Linked DNA regions of Homo sapiens. The protein of the gene in region 3 interacts with the protein of the main gene of each other region in a pairwise test. Each region holds a gene or a part of one and is shown on either strand. Other genes may lie near its edges. The genes, in order: GALNT2, MALL and KASH5.

Evidence for each region.
Region 1: the proteins of KASH5 (region 3) and GALNT2 interact in binary tests that used the Homo sapiens proteins (3 or more experiments, as listed by UniProt).
Region 2: the proteins of KASH5 (region 3) and MALL interact in binary tests that used the Homo sapiens proteins (3 or more experiments, as listed by UniProt).

What each region holds. Positions count from the first base shown.
Region 1 is NC_000001.11:230,273,144-230,276,804, reverse strand, and holds part of GALNT2 (polypeptide N-acetylgalactosaminyltransferase 2 precursor), read right to left. Parts: intron 2,361-3,661; coding exon 2,241-2,360; intron 1-2,240. UniProt on the Homo sapiens protein: Catalyzes the initial reaction in O-linked oligosaccharide biosynthesis, the transfer of an N-acetyl-D-galactosamine residue to a serine or threonine residue on the protein receptor.
Region 2 is NC_000002.12:110,088,278-110,091,938, forward strand, and holds part of MALL (MAL-like protein), read right to left. Parts: intron 3,494-3,661; coding exon 3,326-3,493; intron 1-3,325.
Region 3 is NC_000019.10:49,408,710-49,412,370, forward strand, and holds part of KASH5 (protein KASH5), read left to right. Parts: intron 1-257; coding exon 258-322; intron 323-486; coding exon 487-574; intron 575-1,043; coding exon 1,044-1,166; intron 1,167-3,661. UniProt on the Homo sapiens protein: As a component of the LINC (LInker of Nucleoskeleton and Cytoskeleton) complex, involved in the connection between the nuclear lamina and the cytoskeleton.

The DNA.
Region 1 (3,661 bases), on a different chromosome or scaffold from region 3:
GGTGCTAGCCTTCTCTTGTTTAACAGGCACTCCCTTACACATTTTGGTATCAAGTCATCAACACAGATGGACATTTAGAGATGCGGATTGTGAGCAGAACCCTAGAGAGGGGCTCCCACTGCCAGGACAGGCTGGGACTCTGCAGAGCAGGGAAGGAGGAGCACCCAGAGCTGGCGCAGGGGTTTGGAGACAGACAGGTGAAAGAGGGCCCTCTGCAGGCGTCTCCCTGACAACTGGGGTCAGAACCGGGGACTCGGTCCTGGCCTTGGTCTTCCCAGATGACTCCAGGGTGGAGGCAATGACTTTCTGAGACTTTTCTGTTGTGAAATCAGGGTTAGACTAGAAGCTGGCTTAGGCTCTTGGCTCCAGTAGGTTCTGTGCCTCAGTTTCCCTACATCCCATCTATCTCTAAGGACCGACTGTAAGAACAGGGGCAGGCACTCCAAGTATGGGCATACAGGGAGGACCTTTTGTGCTTGCATTTCTATTCCTGACACTAACTGTTACCCCATGCCTTGAGAAAGGGTGTGTCCACAAGCTGCCACAAGGGAATACGTCAGAGAAAACCGGCTTACAAGGCAGGTAGAAAGTCTATTCTGAAATGTTTAAAGAAACTGTGTGTATATGTGTGTGTGTGTATATATGTATATATATGTGGTGTGTATATATATGTATATATCTGTGGTGTCTATATATGTATATATGTGTTTATATATGTATATATATGTGGCATGTATATATACGTATATATATGTGGCATGTATATACGTATATATATGTGGCATGTATATATACGTATATATATGTGGCATGTATATATACGTATATATATGTGGCATGTATATATACGTATATATATGTGGCATGTATATATGTATGTATCTGTGGTGTCTATGTATATATGTGGTGTTTATATATGTATATATCTGTGGCATTTATATATGTATATCTATGTGGCATGTATATACATGTATATATGTGGCATGTATATTTGTATATATATGTGGCATGTATATATATGTATATATCTGTGGTGTATGTATATATGTATATATATGTGGTGTTTGTATATATATATGTGGTGTGTATATGTGGTGTGTATATATATGTGGTGTTTACATATGTATACATGTGGCATGTATATATGTTGTGCTTGTATATCTATGTGGCGTATATATATGTGGTGTTTATATAAATGTAGCATGTATCTATATGTATATATATGGTGTGTTTATATGTATATATATGTGGCGTTTATATATGTATATCTATGTGGCATGTATATATATGTATGTATCTGTGGTGTGTGTGTGTATATGTATATATATGTGGTGTTTGTATATATGTATATATGTGGCGTGTATATATATGTGGTGTGTATATATGTGGTGTTTACATATGTATATATGTGGCGTGTATACATGTGGTGTTTATAGATGTATATGTGGCATGTATATATATGTATACATATGTGGTGTGTATATATATGTGGCGTTTATATATGTATAAATGTGGCATCTATATATACGTATACATGTGGTGTGTATATATGTATATATGCGGTGTTTACATATGCATATATGTGGCATGCATATGTATATATATGTGGTGTTTATATATGTATATATGTGGCAGGTATATGTATATGTGGTGTGTATATATGTATATGTGGTGTGTATATATATGTATATATATGTGGTGTGTATACATGTATATATATGTGGTGTGTATATATATACGTATATATGTGGCATGTATATATGTGTATATATGTGGCGTGTATATATGTATATATGTGGCATGTATATATGTATATATGTAGCATGTATATATATGTGGTGTGTATATATGTGTGTATATATATGCTCACATATATACACACATAGACACACACACTTGCATTATGTATCGAGTACCATCCATGTGAACATTAATCATTTAGAATTTTTGTAAATTGAAATAGAAAAAAGTATTTGATGAATAAACAAAAGTAGATAATTTCTCTTTAAATTTTCAGCGGCATAGGGAAGAGAATGAGAATATAATCAGAAATAAGCAACATTAGGTTTGTGGCTTAAGTCTAATAGGGCAGCTAGACATTATTCACAGTGATGCAAAAGAACACATAAGTACACGCAGAGATGGATGCTTTGAGAGGCAGCACAGAGCAAGAGGGCGCAGGCCGTGGCTACCCTGGTCTGGGTTAATCACGGGCACCCACGGGTGCCTGCAAGCCGTACCTGTCTGCTGTCATTTTCTCGGCAGCCCTGCAGCTTTATAAGAGAGCCCGGTGCCCGGTCCACCACAGTAAGGCACAAATCCATGTGCTTCACCGACTTCTCCTTCGTCAAGGCCCATTCCTGGAACACAAAACCAGAAGTCAGAGGCGTGCTATGCACCGGGCTGTGAAAGGAAAGAAGGGGCATCGATGAGGGCTCAAAAAGGAAATGGGTCACGGGGTGGAGCTTAGATTCAGAACCCCTGAGCCAACTGAGAACGAAACAATTACTTTTTGCCTAAGGGCAAATTTATAACATCAGAGATGTGGGAGAACCTCACAACTGAGCAGTAAGTTGGCTGAGTGATGTGCAGAAGTGCTTTGAGGACCTCAGTAACTAAAATAAAACTATTAACTATTTTAGCCCCAAATACAAGTTAGACTGCCTTGTTCATTTTTCTATAATTCAATGTGAGCTGTAAAAACTGTGGCACAAGCTTGGTTATACACCAGGTAGACAGTTGGCAACTGGTCCACCCATGCTATTTTGGAATGACTCTGCCCTCATGCAGGTATGGCCTGCAAACAGCATTGATGAATGTGAACTGTAGTAAATAACACATTGCATATGTAAGCAAAATATATCGTGTATAGCCTCCTAAGTGAATGCTAATTGATCTATGGGTGCTCATGAAGCCCTCTGAAAACTGGAGGAATAGATCTATGAATTTCTTTGAATACATTACAGCTAAATTTAATGGGGTGCTATGTGCCAAGCATTATTTTAAGCCCTTTATACAACAGCTCCATGAGGGCTATTATTATTCTCATTTTATAGATGAGAAAACTGAGCTAGAGAGTGTTTAAATAACACACCATGATGTTAACAAACAAACACACACATATATGTACAAACACACACAAGTTAAAGGCTGTGACAGGGTGAGAGGACAACCATTTTGGATACTAAATGAGACATGGTCCCAGGTGGCAGAGGAGGCCGGAGCCTGTTCCAGGCAGGGCCACAGCAGGGACTGGAAGGTGAGGCTTCTGACCATCACTCTCCATTTGTCCCACTCAAAGGGATGAACACCCCTTAATATCGAGGGGCAGCAAGGCCCTTTCCAGTTTAAAACCCCACAGGGACTCACTATCCACTTCCATCCCCTTCCTCTCTAAGCCCCAGCACGCTGCAGTGGCCCTCCCCTCCGTCTGTCTGTCTGTCTTTCTATCGGTCTGTCCCATGACCACCTGCTGCACACCTGTATGACACCGGCGCTGTCACAGAGCCAGGCTCCCTTTCTAGTGGGGAACATGAAAGACACACAAATAAATGTATTCTGCAACTTCAGGCACTATTATGTGCTATGAAGACACTGTTTTTTTCTTGGTTCTTGGAAACAGAGGTAAGGAAAGGAACAAATAGTGTTTAAAGAAGCCTCA
Region 2 (3,661 bases), on a different chromosome or scaffold from region 3:
TTGGAACAGTTTGGGGTACCCAGAAGAAGACAGGAAGATGTAGGAAAGTTTGGAACTTTCTAGAGACTTGTTGAATGATTCTGACCAAAATGCTGATGGTGATATGGACAATGAAATCCAGGCTGAGGTGGTCTCAGATGGAGATGAGGAACTTATTGGGAACTGGAATAAAGGTCACTCTTGCTATGCTTTAGCAAAGAGACTGGTGGCATTTTACCCCTGTCCTAGAGATCTGTGGCACTCTGAACTTAAAAGAGATGATTTGGGGTATCTGGCAGAAGAAATTTCTAAGCATTGAAGCATTCAAGATGTGACCTGACTTTTCCTGAAAGTGTACAATCATATGCATTCACAAAGAGATGGTCCAAAATTGGAACTTATGTTTAAAAGGGAAGCAGAACATAAAAGTTTGGAAAATTTGCAGCCTGATCATGTGTTAGAAAAGAAAAACATATTTTCTGGGGAGAAATTCAAGCTGTCAGCTGCAGAAATTTTCATGAGTAATGAGGGTCCCCAAGACAAAGGGGACGATATCTCCAGGGCATTTCAGAGATCTTCACAGTAGCCCCTCCCATCACAGGCTCAGAGACCTAGGAGGGAAAAATGGTTTTGTGGGCCAGGCTCAGGGCCCTGTTGCTCTGCACAGTCCTGGAACACAGCACTCTGCAACCCGGCTGCCCCAGCTCCAGCAGCTGGGGGCCAAGGTACAGCTTGGGCCATTGCTTCAGAGTGTGTAAGCCTCAAGCCTTGGCAGCTTACACATGGTGTTGGACCTACAGGCATGCAGAAGGCAAGAATTGAGGTTTAGGAACCTCTGCCATGATTTCAGAGGATGTATGGAAATGACTGGATGTACAGGCAGAGTCTGCTGCAGGGGTGGAGCCCTTATGAAGAACCTCTACTAGGGCAGTGCAGAAGGGACATGTGGGGTCAGACCCCCCACAGAGAGTCCCCACTGTGACACTGGCTAGTACAGCTGTGAGAAGAGCTGTCCTGTAGACCCCAGAATGGTAGGTTCACTGACAGTTTGCACTGGTCACCTTGAAAAAGCACAGACACTCAATGCCAGTTTGTGAAAGCAGCTGCAGGGGCTGTACTGTGAAGAGCCACAGAGGTGGAGCTGCCCAAGGTCTTGGGTGCCCACCCTTTGTAACAGGGTGACTTGAATCTGAGACATGAAGTCAAAGGAGATTTTGGAATGTCGACATTTAATGGCTGCCCAGCTGGGTTTAGGACTTGCATGGGGCCTGTAGCCCCTTTGTTTTGACCAATTTCTCCCATTTGGAATGGGAGCATTTACCCAATGCCTGTACCCTTATTGTGTCTTGGAAGTAACTAACTTGCTTTTTGATTTTACAGGCTCATAGGCAGAAGAGACTTCTCTTGTCTTAGATGAGACTTTGGACTTAAACTTTTGGGTTAATGCTGGAATAAGTTGAAACTTTGGGGGACTGTTGAGAAGGCATGATTGTATTTTTAAATGTGAGAAGGATGAGATTTGGGAGGGGCCAGTGGTATAATGATATGGTTTGGCTCTTTGTCCCCACCCAAATCTCATCTCCTATTGTAATCCACATGTATCAAGGGAGGGACCTGGTGGGAGGTGATTGGATCATGGGGGCAGTTTCCCCTATGCTGTTCTCATGATAGTGAATGAGTTCTCATGGGATCTGATGGTTTAAAAGTATGGCACTTCCCCCTCCCCCATCTCTCCTGCTGCCATGCAAGGCATGCCTTGCTTAGCCTTCACCTTCCACCATGATTGTAAGTTTCCTGAGGCCTCCCTAACCATGAGGAACTAGTCAATTCAACCTCTTTTCTTTATAATTTACCCAGTCTCTGGTTGTTTATAGCAATGTGAGAATAGACTAATACACAGTGTTTTTAATGTAATATCTATGTCGTAAGCAATGGCAGACTAATAAAGATCAGTATATTTCAGTTACGCAAAGTCAATCTTGGTCTGAAATATTAAATGAAAAATTCCAGAAATTAACAATTAAATGTGTGCCTTTCTGAGTACAATGATGAAATCTTGCACTGTCCCGCCCTGTTCCACCTGGGATGTGAATCAGACATTTGTCTAGCATGTCTACACTGTCTGTGCCACCCATGTTAGTCGCTTTGTACTCATCTGGGCTATCAGATCAACTGTTGTGGCACTGCAGTGCTTGCATTCAAAGAATCCTTATTTTACTTCATAATGGCCCCAAATTGCAAGAGTAGTGATGCTGGCAATTTGGATATGCCAAAGAGAAGTCATAGGGTGCTTTCTTTAAGTTAAAAAGTATAAGTTTTCAGCTTAATAAGGAAAGAAAAAAAATATGCTGAGGTTGTTAAGATCTACAGTAAGAATGAATTGTCTATCTGTGAAATTGTGAAGAAGAAAAAAGAAGTGCATGCATAGCAAATTCGGAGTTCAGTACTCTCTGAGGATTCAGGCATCCCCTAGGGGTCTTGGGACTTATCCTCCGGAGATGGGGGACCACTGTATACTGTCTTAGGTATGCTGAGGAATTGTTTACTTCGTATACATGTGATAATGTGAGAAAGTTTGCGGAGTTTTTTTGGAAACATACTGAAGTGTGTGGAATAGAATGGCATGATGTTTGGTGTTTGCTTTAAAATTCCTTAGTGGGGACAAAGGCTAGATGAAACAAATGTGGTAAGGTCTTGATAATGCTGGAATCTGGGTTATGGCTACATGAGGGCCTATAATACAATATTCTGTACTTTTAAATATGTCTTCAATTGTTCAGTGTGGAACAGTTTTAAATGGTTTTTTGAGATGACGTGATAAATAAAAATTAGTGATGTAATATTAAATGAAAGCATCTACATCCAAAATTATTTGTAGAGTACAATTAAAGTATATATATACATATATATACATATATACATATGTATATACGTATATATGTATATATACTTTGCATATAATTCATGTGGGATATGGAAGAAATACCCTGTCGCAGGGATTGTGTTAGGGCCTTGAGAATGGAGTGATTTTTTTCCTACTAGCTTTTTCTTCAGTGTTGCTCCAAGGATTTTACCAGGAAGAAAATTTAGGGGAAACACATCAGAATATGCTTGATCACAGGTCATTGTGTATTCTCCTAACAGGGAAGCCAGTGAAGGGGAATACCAGGAATTATTTACGCTTGCAGATAAATGTCTTCATTTTAGCGTGGTAGTAAAAATGGTAAGATAAAAAGTCTTGGTTCCATAGGAGCCTAGCCCAGGATCCCTCCCTGCCCAGAAAGGCCAATTGTCCTCACCCAACCCAGAACGTCCACCCAGGAAGAGCCATGCTGCTGGTTCTTACCAGAACTCTCCAGGATTCAAATCTTTTGTAAAATCCAAACAAGTAAGACAACAGGAACATCAAGGAGATGAGAAACGAGGTGAGCGAGACATACATCACCCATCCTTGCAGCAAGGGGTATACTATGTGGGTGGCGGCTACCATGGTCCAGACCAAGAACCCAAATATCTGGAAGATAAAAGCATAAAAGAAGGGGCTTCATTAGCTAGTGTGGAGTATGTTTCCCTTTGCAGGGTGTCTCTTTTCTGTCTCTAGTTACAAGTTCAGGTGAAGTTAGGAGGGAACCAAGAGGAAAATGGGGAAGGAAGGCTGGCCCCGCTGAGTCACGGTAAAGTC
Region 3 (3,661 bases):
AGTGCTGGGATTACAGGCATGAGCCACTGCGCCTGGCCTCTTGGCCTGTGCTTTAGCTTCTGGATTCCTGTTGCTCTCTCTCTTTGGCTTCCTAACATTCTGTCATGGCTTTCTTCCCCTTGTCCCTAGGCAGTATGTGTCTGGGGAGCCCAAAGTAGTCAGGAAAGGGGAAAGAACCCTGGAAGAGGAGCCCAGAGGTGGATGGGAGGGTGGGAAAAATGCAGAGCCAAATGTGCTCCCCACTTCCTCCTTTGCAGGAACTGAGGCTGGAGATTTCACGCCTGGAGGAGCAGCTGAGTCAGACCTATGAGGGGCCCGATGAGTGAGTGGAATTTCAAGGGGTAGGAGGAGGCAGGAGGGGAGCCTAAGGGCAGGGACACCCTGGCCTCCAGCCCCAAGGTGGGCAGGGAAGGGAGGCCAGCATGAGCTGACTGAGTGGCCACCAGGCACAGAGGCCATCTTCCTCCCTCCTTCCTGTGTGGCCAGGCTACCTGAAGGGGCCCAGCTGAGAAGAGTGGGCTGGACCGAGCTGCTACCCCCATCGCTGGGCTTGGAGATCGAGGCCATTCGACAGGTGGGCCTAACACCCCTGGAATAAGCTGCAGGCCACCAAGGCAGAATCTCCAAACATCTCCCTACTCTGATCCTCACACCAGCCTAGCCCTAACCCACATTGCTGCCAGAGGCTCCTATCGCAACCTTAGCTTTTCTCTAACTCTCTCTACCTCGGATCCTAACCCCAAACCCACTGCCAGACCCAGGCCTGTGCCAGACCCCAGTCTGATCCAGCTTTGACTCACCCCTATCTCGTCTCCCTCCATGACCATCTCACTCCTTAACTTCATCTCGAACCTAGACCTTGGTCCTGGCACCAAATCCTCCCCTGTTCCTGCTTCTGCCCACTCCCCAACCCCAGCCCCACACCAGCCCTTTTCTATCTCTCATCCTATTTTCAGCCGCACACCTAAACCTATTTCTATCTCTGACCTTGTTTTCTACCTTAATATGGCTCTCCCTGACCTCGGAAACAACTTCTGTCCCAGAAACAGGAAGTGGCAACTGCTGATCTCTCCAACCCTCTGTGTGGGGTGTGGCAGTGGGAGGAAGTCATCCATGAGACCAGTGAGGAAACTGAGTTTCCATCTGAAGCCCCAGCTGGGGGACAGGTGAGCACAGGAAAAGCTCTGAAGTCCAGGAGCTGGAAAGGGGCCAGGAGCTCCAGGTGCCGCCCTGGCCAGCCCATTCACTCACACTTTTGCTTGTTCCCCATTTGATGAGAAAATGTTAATTGAGGGCCCAGTGTGTGCTGGACACCCAGCCACAAGCCAGACCAGACACCACCCCTACCCCAGGGACTGACCTGCCAGCGTTGTAGACAAAGGTGAACCAAGCAAACACACAAGTTGCACTGTGGCTTTTATTGTTGGTTTGTTTTTTAGAAAACACTCTTGGGAATTACATTATTTAAAATCGTACTACTGTAGGAAGGGAATAAGTAAGTTGTTTATTCCAGCATTTTAAGGATATATTAAGCATTTATGTTTCAAATGTTAGCACCTTTAAGAAAAGCCAGCAAGCTCACTATGACATCTTTAACTCAGCAATAACCATTGGGGTTTTTTTTGTTTTTTGTTTTTAGAGACAGGATCTTGTCTTATTCTGTTGCCAAGGCTGGAGTGAACTTGACTCACTGCAGCCTCAATCTCCTGGATAAGCAATCCTCCCACCTCAGCCTCCCAAGTAGCTGGGATTACAGGAACACACCACCATGACTGGCTTTTTTTTTTTTTTTGAGATGGAGTCTCACTCTGTCACCCAGGCTGGAGTGCAGTGGCACGATCTCAGCTCACTGCAACCTCCACCTCCCAGGTTCAAGCAGTTCTCCCTGCCTCAGCCTCCCAAGCAGCTGGGATTACAGGAACCTGCTGCCACACCTGGCTAATTTTTGTATTTTTTTTAGTAGAGACGGGGTTTCGCCATGTTGGCCAGGCTGGTCTTGAACTCCTGATCTTAGGTGATCTGCCCGCCTCGGCCTCCGAAAGTGCTGGGATTACAGGCATGAGCCACCATGCCCAGCCTTTTTAAAATTTTTTTATAGAGTTGAGATCTCACTGTGTTGTCCAGACTGGTCTCAAACTCCTGGGCTCAAACTGTCCTCCTACCTCAGCCTCCCAAAGTGCTGGGATTACAAGCATGAGCCACTGCACCTGGCTTTTTTTTTTTTAATTAATTAATTTATTTTGAGACGGTCTCACTCGCTTCTCTGTTGCCCCGGCTGGGGTGCAGTGGCATTATCACAGCTCACTGCAGCCTCAATCTCCCTGGACTCAGGTGATCCTCCCATCTCAGCCTCCCAAGTAGCTGCAACCACAGGCATGTGCCACCATGTGTAGCTAAATTTTCTATTTTTTGTAGAAATGAGGTCTCCCTGTGTTGCCCAGTCTGGCTGAACTCCTGGGGTCAAGTGATCCGCCTACCTCAGTCTCCTAGAGTGCTGGGATTACAGGCATGAGCCACTGCTCTGGGCTCTCTCTCTATTTTTTTTTTTTCTTTTAAAGAAAATGTTGTAAACAGCTCTATAAACAAGCTGTATTGTCTTGAGAACTGCACCACTTCAAAGCTCTTTGCCATCCTTAAGGAGAGACTCATTTCTCTGATCACTTTTTCCCTGGTTTGAGAAAAGCTTTTGTTTCTCTTTGACACCAGAGCTTGTTTGGGTTCTCATTTAACTCTCCCAGTATCTCTGTAAGGCAGGCATCCTCATCTTGTTACTCATGGGAAACTGAGGCTCAGGGAGAAATCACATGCCAATGGTCACACAGCTTGTTGGGGACAGAGCCTCATCCCTCAGAAGTGTAGGTTAGATTGGGCTTCTGCTTTGAGCTGTCAGATGCCCCTGAGAGACAGGCTTGTCAAGGGGAAGACTGAGCCAGGCCTCAGAGTGCAACCTGCGATGGGCCCAGGGATACAGAGCTGAGTCCCTTGGGGCCGGGCCTCTCAGTGCTCAAGGCCTGATAGGAGAGACCCTGCAAATGGGTTGCCCCAGTGCAGAATGATCATTGTGCTAGAGGTGGGGGATGGGCCTGTGGGAGCCCAGAGAAGGGGTATCTGTGTCAGGTCAGAGATTGGGGAAGATATTGAAGGAAAACTGATACTTGAGTGGAAGGAAGGAAGGAAGGAAGGATGGAAGGAGGGAGGGAGGGAAGGAGGGAAGGAAGGAAGGAAGGAAGGAAGGAAGGAAGGAAGGAAGGAAGGAAGGAAGGAAAGAAGGAAGCCAGCCTTTGAGGCACTAGCACAGCCTGTGCAAGGCCTTGGCATAAAATCACGATATGCTTGAGGAGTAGAGGGTAACTAGGGGTGACTAGTGAGAGATGAGGCCAGGGCCAGATCATGAAAGGAAATCTCTGACAAGCTAACAGATTGTACTTTTCTTCATAAAGCCACAAGAAGGGTGGGGTCAGCTCCGGGCTTAAAAAGATCCCTCTGGAACCATGTGAGGGACCTACTGGAGGCAGGGAGGAGGCTGGAGCAATGGTGATGAAGCCTGAGCCAGGCCAGGGCCCTAGGGATGGAGGAAAAGGGACAGACAGACATAATTGGGGTGGAGGGACAGAGCAGGGGTCAGACGGGATGTGGGTGATGGGGAGGGAGGAAAGGAGGC